Linked DNA regions of Homo sapiens. The protein of the gene in region 3 purifies or fractionates together with the protein of the main gene of each other region. This does not show direct contact. Each region holds a gene or a part of one and is shown on either strand. Other genes may lie near its edges. The genes, in order: MFSD8, TMEM238L and KDSR.

Region 1 (3,024 bases), on a different chromosome or scaffold from region 3:
TATACAGTGGAACCAGAAAGAGGGTTCTGTAAGAATTAGCCATAGCAGAACAAAATTATAGAATTTTAAATACCTCTACCCAAGTAGAGGTATTTTTATTCAGACACCTACTTTTTATTTATAAAAAAATGCATTTTCTATTATCAAGTTCACTTATGAAATAAAAATTATAACACATATTTTCCATTTAGCGTGCCTAACATCCTACCTTGCCTTCTATGAGTCTTTCTTCTAATACTACACCTCTGCCTTATTTTAGTTCAGGGTTTCACTAAGTAACCCCTACATTAATAAATGAGTATGGATAATGCTAATATTTGAGCAATACAGAGGATTAAGAGATCAAGATACTTCACTGCCTATTAGCCTAATAGGGATACCTACTTTCTTTCAAATGCCAAAAATTCACATTAGAAACATAATCCAGATATGTGTTATTTTATATATATATATACAAAACAGTAAATGGTTTCTTAAAATTATTGCTATTTTTCAACCCCCTTAAACTGGAGAAAAACATTTAATTAGTAAAACATTAATTAATTTACTTTAATTTTTCCCATCTCTCAGTAGTGGCGGGGAGGAACACAACAGTTTTCAATCTATGTCTGCATAGTTGTGTAGAGCTGCAGAATTTTAGTTGGATTTTTAATTTGGATGATCCCTGACAGCCCCAAACTAGTCAGGCTAATAAGTATTTGAGGCAAAATGGCTTTAATCTAACAATTTACTGAGTTTACCTGAAGTTGGCTAAATAACACTGTATGTTTAACTTCTACCTCTACATAAGTTGAATGCTGATAAAAGGAACTAGTAGATAACTATGTATATTGATAAGCACTGTTAAGAAAATGCAAAAATATTTCTAAACACTTTTCCAAATGTTTTCTACTTTAAGTTAGAAATAGTTTCAAATCTGAGAATAAACACTATATAATCTGCACTTTATAGGTTGGGTGCAGTGTCTCATGCCTGTAATCCCAGCACTTTGGAAGGCCAAGGCAGGAGGATTGCTTGAGGCCAGGAATTCAAGACCAGCCTGGGAAACAAAGTGAGACCCTGTCTTTACAAAAAATAAAAACAAAAATTTAAAACTGTATAATCTGCACTTTATGCTAAACTAGCTGTGCTCTTAAACTCAATTTTTTCAGCTCTAATAAAGGGCTTAATTTGATAGAATTATTCTACGATTAAATTTTGAAGACTGTTTTCACTCTCCTCTGCCGCCCATAGCAAGACTGCTTCCATAGATTTCTCAGAACCGTAGCCAGTTCTGGCTATTTGGTCAAGTCTGGGATCCCTCTTACCTGCTATTCTGCAGCTGCTTTCTCTGTCTTACATTTTTTGGGCCACGTCTAATCTTAAAGAGTAAACTCTACCCTTGGTTTGCATAGTGTGCATGACAAAAATAACAAGAATAATGGTAATGATGAAAATGATAAGAGCAAAATTTGTGGAGTGCTTTCCACATTCCAGGTAATGTGTAACATACAATTTAATTCTTACAGCAGTCTTATGGAGTGAAAATACTATTATGATTCCCGTTTTACAGATGAAAGAATGGAGGCACAGAAAAGTTACTTGTCTAAGTAACAGTCTATCCTTAAAGTCCACAGTCTTAACCACTTGATTTTTCATAGTGAGGAAAATATCCCAGAAAGTTGCAGTTTCAATTAATCACTAATTGTAGGGTAATTTAACTATACCAGTGAGTCCTACTAGCAGAAATATTTGGGCAACATAAGCCCACTGACTGGAGCTTTTGTCTTAGCATAATAACCTGTTTCCAGCAAGAATATAACAGAAAAAAGTTTCCCAGCTTTCAAAGGTTTATAATATTGATTAAAATTTAGATAAACTTAACCTTACACAAATGACTCTTACTTTCCTTTTTATTGAGAGCATTTTCTTTGGAGCATTTTCTTCTTTGGAGGATTATACCTTGCTCATCTTGGCACAAAAGAAGGCGAAAGGAAGTAACATGGGATTGGGAAAAGAGCAAGGAGATAAAGTTTGAGGAAAAAAAATCACCATGTTGATGTCTTCTTGAGTAGGCCAAGTTGCGTATAAAGAGAAAATGACAACAGGAGATTTTAAGGTATGATATATTGTTAAGAGTAGTACATATTTAAGAAGAGAAAATATGTTTTTGAAAACAAATTTAAACTTGAAAGGATGATTTTCATATTTTGAAGGGATTTATAACTTCACAAAGCATCTCCATTCTATCTTGTTCAGCTTTACATTTAAAAATAAACTCTTCTTGTTCATATAAACCTTATCTCTTACATAAAGTGAAATCTGTTAATTTTTTGTTTTGACAAGGATAAACTACTTACCTGCATCTGTTTAAGAATAGATTAACTTATTTTGAGAAGAAATTCTGGGCACCATTTTTGACCATTGAAGACTTATTTGTAATTTAATTTCTACTTTACATTGTGAATGTTCATTTTCTAATAAACAAGATTATTTTGCATATGTACCTTAAGCTTTAAAACTTTATTCAGTCGTCTTTCAGTACATATTTAAGGGGGTACCCACTATGTGCCAATTACAATGTCATTTGGGGGATTGTGCGGTAAACAAAACACACAGAGCTCCGACCTTCATGAGGCTTATGTACCAGCAAGAAAGTCAGATATTCACAAGATGATTTCACAGATGATTATGATTGAGGGAGGGGTGATGAGAGAGAAGCATAGGGAGCTATGAGGGTGAATATGATTAACAGGGAACCTGACCTGAACAGGAGAGTCAGGCATGTTTCTCCAGAAGAAATGATTAGCCAAGACCTAGTGGAAGAGAAAATTTGGATTGGTGAAGAGTGGGACAAGTACTTTTCAGGCAGAAGGCAGTGTGTACAAAGCCCTGGAGGTGGGAAGATCTTGGAGCTTTCACAGAACTAAAAATAGGTCCAAGTTGGGTGGAGTATAGTGGTTGAGAAGAAGCCTAATTTTAGCTGAGTCTATAAAGGGACAATGCAAGGCCTTGCAGGCCCCAGGTATTAAGACTTCTTGTGCA
Region 2 (3,943 bases), on a different chromosome or scaffold from region 3:
CCTCCTCCAGGAAGCTTTCCCTGACTCCATCTTCTGAGTCAGTTTCTCTATTGAATATTCTTGTGGCAGGATGCTCCTCTCCTTCCTAGAGCAGACCTGACTTTGTTATTGTACTTTTGTAAGTGTGAATCTTTGGTGAGTGTCTGTCTTTCTCACCTGATGGTAAACTCCCTGAGAGTAGAGCCCCCACGTCATGTGTCTTTTTTTTTTTTTAATTGAGACAGGTCTCACTCTGCCGCCCAGGTTGGAATGCAGTGGTGCAATCTCTGCTCACTGCAGCCTGTGCCTCCTGGGCTCCAGCAATCCTTCTGCCTCAACCTCCTGAATAGCTGGGATTACAGGTGTGCATCACCATGCGTGGCTAATTTTTTGTATTTTTGGTGGAGATGGGGTTTCACCATGTTGCCAAGGCTGGTCTTGAACTCCTGACCTCAAGTGATCTGCCCGCCTCGGCCTCCCAAAGTGCTGGGATTACAGGCATGAGTCACTGTGCCTGGTCCATGTGTCTCATTTCTTATCCCCAGTGTCTTGCACAGTGCCTGACACATTCCAACATACCAGCACACAAATCAGGGACCCTTTTTGCTCTGAAGTTTCCTGATGCAAAGTGTGAGTTGACCCCCATCACTACCAATTTGAGAGACACCAAGGTACTTCACATTTGGACTTTGGGTCAGTTAACTCATCCCAGATTATGTGTTTTGTATGCTTGACATCTGGTGTAAGAACCACATCAATTGTACAGCCTTTCCCTGCCTTATCTCTTTTCGATCCTTGCAGCAATAAGGGCCAGAAATATTCTCTTCATCTTACAGATGAGAATCCTGAGGCTCAGAGTGTGCAACCTGGCCAAAAACACCCAGCTAACAAGTGCTGAAGATCAGAGTGGGACTGACTTCTCATCTGTTTCTACATCATTTCCTAGGTATGGGCTTACCTTACTCTACTGAGACCTCTTCATTTTGCTTCTCTTTTCTCTGAGTTCTGAGAGTCAGGTGTAATCCCCCACAAAAGACACAATTATTATTTCCTTCTTTCAACTCAGCAACGACCTTTGCTCTTACTTCTGGTAAGGGAGTAAGAAACGGGAGTGCCTGGATACACCTGCGTGCAGGTTGGGCCCACCTGGGGAGGAGGGTATGGCTGCCCAATGGACCGTGGCTCTGACTTCAGTCCCCTGGAGACAGCTGTCCATCTCTAATTCAGGGTTGTAAGGACCAGACCACTCTATCTCTGGGACTCTGTCTTGATGTGAAAAAATCTTACAACTCTCTGCCTCTTTGGTTGCACGCGATAGACTGAGCTGTGACATGCAACTCAGCGGATGAAATCCATGAAGCCAAACTGTCTTGACTTCTGGGCCTTGGAGACTGGCTGGGCACATGTGTTGGCTGCGTGTGAGTGTGAGTGAGGGTGGGGTGGGAATACTGCAGAGAGAGGAGGTGTGTGCACTGAGTGGGCATGGAGGCGAGTAGTCCCTACCCCGCTTCTTGTATCCCATCTGGGCAGGTGCAGGGAGGAAGTGAACGAGAGGGGCCGTTCTGGGTGGTTCTGCTCTGTTTGCTTTTACCGTGGCCCAGTTCACACCCCTTCATGTATGCAAGGGCACAAGAGTCATTGGGGAACTTTCCGTCCTCTCCTGTGCTAAAGACTTTTCTCCCCAGCAGAGATTCTTCCCAACAGAGAATGCAGATGGGGTCTTTTTGTCCCCAAGTTCCGAGGTAAAGGGATAACTTCCCATTGTGCCCAGAAGCCAGGATCATTCGTGGTATATCAGGGGTGGAAGGGGCTGTTGAGACTCTCTTTCCAGCCTCTGCGAGGAAAAGGGCCCGGAGGAGAAAACACCTGCCCCACGTCCTCTTGGCTGGCCACCCCAGCAGGACCTGAGGCCAGGGCCACAGGATCCCCAGTCAGGGTGCAGTGTCTGGCTATTTGCTTATGCAGCCTCAGGAGGCCTGGTCTTGCCCCTGCTTGTCCAAGCCTCTCTGGCCACCCTGCCAGGTAGGTCTTGTGTGCACTCACCTGGTCCCGGCGTGGCTTGCTAGGTGGAAGCTGCAACGTGTTGCTGCCCAAGAGCCCCAGGTTCACAGACATGTCTGCATACAGCACCTGCGTCTCTTCTCCTCTTCCCATGGCCAAATTACAGGTCCAGTTTTTCAGGAGACACCTCAATGTTGAGGGAATACCAGATGATCCAGAGCAGTAGGCTGAGAGCCAGGATCAGGGCACCTGTGTAGATGAAGAAGTCCCAGGAACTCAGGGGGGCCAAGATCCCCAGCAGCAAAAGGACCAGGCCGACCGCGTCCAGCAGGAGGGCGAGGATGAGGAAGAGCGCACAGCGCCCTGGATGGCATCTTCCCCACAGACTCCCCAGGAGCATTGCCCAGGAGGAGCGGGAGGAGCCCAGCTGCACTCCCGGGGGTGATTTGCATGGGAGGGTGGCGGTCCTGCCTGCTGCTGCCTTCTCTGCCTGCTGGGTGTGAGCAAATGAGCGAGCTGGCGCTTCTTGGAGCCACAGGGAAGTACACGTGGGTCTACCTTTATGAGCACGGCAGCCAGTGGGGCAGGATATTTCTTAACTGTTTCATGGCTCAGGAATGATCTGGACCCAAACAGTCTGACATCACTGTTAATTGGGCTGCTCATCGCTGGGACCTACAATCCATGTGGCAGAGGAGTCAGGGTGCCCTTGGATGCATCTGCCAAGTTGGCGGTCCTGTGATTCTGGGGGAGGGGCTGATCTGTGCCTTGTTCTCTAATCCCTGGAAGCCAGAGAGCCTGAGTGCCCTGTTTCTGAGACACAGCTGCTTCATCTAGTATAGCGGGGTGGAGTGGTGGAGTTTCCATTCCTCTTCACCTCCCTGCCCTACTCTCTTCCTTGGGGGAAAAGGTTTTATGTAAAGGACATAGACAAGAGTTTGTAAGATCAATCGATTTTGAAGCGTTGCTGTAAGAATTGGTCCATGTTAGCAAGAGAAGTTTTGCCTTCTTGTAGAGCCCTCACTCTGCAGACGGAAGGATCTGAGTTCCCTAGGATAATGGACAGTAAGGATAAGGGCGGGAAAGGGGTAGAGATGGAAAAGACAGAGGGGACAGAGAGAAGACAACAGGGTGAGAAGAAACTTCTGGCCTCTTCCTGCAGTGGATTCTGTGTGGACCAAAGGGCAATTCCCAGGCAAAAGTCAAGGGATGTTTCCGGGGCCTGTTGCCTCTGTGTTTTCTACATGAACTCATTTTATGTTCATTTTCTTTCTCATAATAGATGACCCTGTAAGCCCTTCCAGACACTGCCTGCATCCCTTCTACATTGATGGGAGCGATCTTATCCCCGTGGCTGCTCACGGCGGGTGTGGGGGTGAACATCAAATGAGGAAAATGCAGCGGCAGTCCTTGGCAGGGCTGCAGACAGCCACCCCTCTGTCCCTGATTCACAGGGAGGCTAGAACAGGGCACCAAACCTTTCTGGGCCTCAGTTTACCCAGATAAATGAAGAAAATAATTTCCACTCTCACTTTTGCCTTCCCCAGAGGGTGAGAATAAGTAGGTGGATCTGATTTCCTTTTTTTTTTGAGACAGAGTTTCATTCTTGTTGCCCCGGCTGGAGTGCAATGGTGCGATCTTGGCTCACTGCAACTTCTGCCTCCCAAGTTCAAGCAATTTTCCCACCTCAGCCTCTGGAATAGCTGGGATTACAGGTGCCCATGACCATGCCTGGCTAATTTTTGTATTTGTATTAGAGATGGGGTTTCAAACTCTACTTGGCCAGGCTGGTCTCGAACTCTGACCTCAGGTGATCCGCCCGCCTCCGCCTCCCAAAGTGCTGGGATTACAGGCATGAGCCACTATGCCCGGCCTTCATTTTTCTATGTGTAAAATAAGCCAGGATGAGAAAGAAACTTTCAGAAAATATTTTGGGGAAGGTGGCAGGGGATGACCTAAACCA
Region 3 (3,655 bases):
CAGCCCAAATGGCCATCGATGATGAATAGCTAAACAGAATGTGGTCGATCCATACAAAGGAATATCACCACCCTATAAAAAGGAATGAGGCACCCATATATGCTACATGTGGATGAGCCTCAAAAACTGATGCTAAGAGAAAGAGGTCAGACACAGAAGTGCACATATCATGATTCCAATCATACGAAATGACCAGAGACAGAATACAGATTGGTGGTTGTCAGAGATTGGGTGTGGGGGTGAGCAGGGATGGGGAGCAACTGCTTACCAGGTGAGGGCCGCCCTATGGGTGATGCATATGCTTTAGAACTAGGCGGAGGGGGTGGGTGCACCTCATTGTGAATATGCTGAATCCCTCTGCATGGCTCACTTTAAAAACAGTTAATTTTATGTTATATGAATTTCACTTCAAATTAAAAAAATAATGTAGGACAATGAAAAAAAAAGGCAGTTAGATCTTAGATGTTTTTCCCCTCTCCACAGGGTAGATCTGTACCCCTCTTCCAGCCTGGCAGGAGACTGGAGGTTCTGTTTCTAGGGATAGTAAGTCTAGATAAAGAGAGAGGTTTAAGGGAAAGTCTGTCTAGACGGCGCACACGAAGACACCAACACACTCCCCAGCTTCATCCTCACAGGAGGCTGGAGGACACTCCGCTTGAGCCCGGGAGGCAGAGGTTGCAGTGAGCCGAGATCGTGCCACTGTACTCCAGCCTCAGCGACAGAGCAAGACTCTGTCTCAAAAAAAAGGAAGAAAAAGATTGTTGATGCGATGGCAACTAAAAAACGTTTTCCATTTTAAAAACATTTCAGGCCGGGCCTGGTGGCTCATGCCTGTACTCCCAGCACTTTGGGAGGTAGAGGTGGGCCAGTCACCTGAGGTCAGGAGTTTGAGACCAGCCGGGCCAACGTGGCGTAAACCCATCTCTACTAAAATAAAAAAAATTAGCTGGGTGTGGTGACATGTGCCTGTAATCCCAGCTACTAGGGAGGCTGAAGCAGGAGAATCACTTGAACTTGAGAGGTGGAGGTTGCAGTGAGCTGAGATCACGCCACTGCACTCCAGCCTGAGTGACAGAGTGAAATTCCATCTCAAAAAAAGAAAAAATAAAAATTTCAAATCTAGTGTTCATTTCTTTGGTGCTGAAATAAATTACCAAGAGAAGTTCCTTGGTAAACCTGATTAAAAATAGAAACATCAATAAGATGCAGTATCTTTTTATCTTGATTTGAGAACTCTAGTGAGTCTGTCCTTCAACTTTTTTGGTTTCTCCTTGTTAATAATACTGATGTTTGATAGGAACATCCGGCATCTCTTAGGTTACAAAGTGTTCTCTTGAAAATATGACCTCAGTGAACTGCTACAGTAATCTGTGTCAGATTAGAAGGTCCATTCCCATTTTAGCTGGTTTTCTCAGCTGTAAAATGTCTAAACTCTTAAGCTTCAATGGTCCTGACACTGGGATGAAAACCTTGTTCAGCTTCACCTTGTTCAGCCTTCCTCTAGAGTCTTCTAAAGCTTCCATGGACATCTGAATGCATTCATCTAATTGATTCTTAAAGCTTTTACCCGTAGCTTGCTCTGCTTTTAGCATATGTGCTACTGCAGTGAGCAAACATTTTTACTTACTTCAAAGGTACTAACTTCAAGATCTTCAAATTTTCCTGACACTGCCATTCCTGCACAATTTACCAGCATGTCCACTGGACCCAGTTTCTCCTGTGCCTAGAAAAATGTAGCAGAGCAGGCATTAAGAAACAGAGAAGAAAAACCACTCAGCAGCAAATCCATGCTGATAAATAAAATTTACAAAACTATTAAACCTATAGAGAAGTTGTGTCCATTCCAAGCCACATAGCAAAATGGCAAGAACAAATCAAAAGTCAAGCACATTGGTGAATTCCAATTAGCCCAACCTCTTACTTGTTTTATGACATTCTCTACTTGGTTATAGTCTTGAGATACATCAACTGATATGCAAAGCACCACCTGTTAAAAAAGAAAAAAAGTGATCAAAGTTTTGCAGGTACCAAACTATTTCTTAAAGATATTTTTTAAAGAAAAGACAGTTCATTGAATACAGAAGGAAGCCAATATTGAATGAACAGATTTCAGTGTTTGCTGATGATGCAATTAGCAGAATCTAATTTTCTTGGCAGCTTTTGGAGTTAAAACTCTGAGGAATCTTTTTAAAAATATATAAATGCTCCTCTTGAAATGCCACTAATCTATAGTGACAGAAGGCAGATCAGGGGTTGCCCACAGCCAGGCATGGAGGATGGAAGGAACTGTGAAAGGGCACAGGCCAACCCTAGGGAGTGATGGAAATATTCCATATAAGGGCCTCAGTGCTGATTCCTTTCAAGAAGGAATCCTGTCCAAATGATCAAAATTCCTAAGAAAAGGAAACAGCCCTCTTTGCAAATATAACCTGCAGCATTCTAGTCTAGAGGGGTTGCCCTTGGTTGTAATGTATACCTAGAGTGGATTTTATCCCAACATCCTCAGATAGAAAACATTGTTTTAAAGGTAGTAGTAATCGGCCAGGCGCGGTGGCTCACGCCTATAATCCCAGCACTTTGGGAGGCCGAGGCAGGTAGATCATTTGAGGTCAGGAGTTTGAGACCAGCCTGGCCTACATGGTGAAACCCTGTCTCTACTAAAAATACAAAAAATTAGCCTGGCGTGGTGGTGGGCACTTATAATCCCAGCTACTCAGGAGACTGAGGCAGGAGAATTGCTTGACCCTGGGAGATAGAGGCTGCAGTCAGCTGAGATCATGCCATTGCACACCAGCGTGGGCAACAGAGTGAGACTCCGTCTCAAAAAAAAAAAAAGGCAGTAGTAATCATATGATTAATTTTAAAACAAGCCTTTTCATGCAGTATTAGATCAGTTACTAATAATAAAATCTATGCCACAGACAAGTGAAATCTCAGAACAAAAAAATGTTAACAAGTCACACACACACACAAAAGGTCCCTAGAAGCCTGGCAGGGCAGAAGGATCAAGCTCATTCTCGCCTGCCCCAGCCCTATCTCCCTTCCTTGATGTGAAAGGTAAGTTTTCCACCTGACCTAAAGTCCTTTGGTAGATGAAGAGGTAGAAGGTGTCATGATGAGGAAGCCCAGAGCGGAGACAGTGTTGGCAGCAGGCAAGACTGGCCTTGGCCCTGAACACTGACTCCATGACTTCACACCATACTCCTTCGTCTATCAGATATTACAGGAATACGGGAAAAAACGGGGCAATTTACAGAGCTGGTGTTTTTCCAATGCTTGTGGGCTTCAGAGAAGGGGGTAAAGACCACAGTCTTAGAGAAAAACTCACATGTGCAGAAGATATACACAAGGATTTTTACTTGCAGCACAGACTGCAATTGCAAAAATAAAAATACAAAATAAAATAAAAAGAATGGAAACAGCTCAATAGCAGGGACCTGACGGAATAAGCTCTGGTGTACTTCAATCCTAGGCTGCAGCAATTTAAGGCAAATTTACTTAATGCACATGGAAAGATCTCTAACATTCTAGAAGGGAAAAAGTCAATGAATACCACAGTGAAATACTATTCAAAACTCATCAGAAAGGCAAAAAGTAAAAAGTCTGTCAATACCAAGTATTGGCAGGGATGTGGCGCAACAGAAACCGCATTCCT

Evidence for each region.
Region 1: the proteins of KDSR (region 3) and MFSD8 purify together in Homo sapiens (affinity purification with mass spectrometry; 2 studies listed by BioGRID and IntAct, with this or other methods). This does not show direct contact.
Region 2: the proteins of KDSR (region 3) and TMEM238L purify together in Homo sapiens (co-immunoprecipitation; one study listed by IntAct). This does not show direct contact.

Annotation. Positions count from the first base shown.
Region 1 is NC_000004.12:127,917,266-127,920,289, reverse strand, and holds the end of MFSD8 (major facilitator superfamily domain-containing protein 8), read left to right. Parts: 3' UTR 1-2,485; downstream 2,486-3,024. UniProt on the Homo sapiens protein: Outward-rectifying chloride channel involved in endolysosomal chloride homeostasis, membrane fusion and function. Conducts chloride currents up to hundreds of picoamperes.
Region 2 is NC_000017.11:10,801,584-10,805,526, forward strand, and holds the start of TMEM238L (transmembrane protein 238-like), read right to left. Parts: upstream 2,517-3,943; 5' UTR 2,381-2,516; coding exon 2,141-2,380; 3' UTR 2,023-2,140; intron 926-2,022; exon of another isoform or gene 816-925; intron 1-815.
Region 3 is NC_000018.10:63,353,577-63,357,231, forward strand, and holds part of KDSR (3-ketodihydrosphingosine reductase), read right to left. Parts: intron 1,988-3,655; coding exon 1,922-1,987; intron 1,724-1,921; coding exon 1,628-1,723; intron 1-1,627.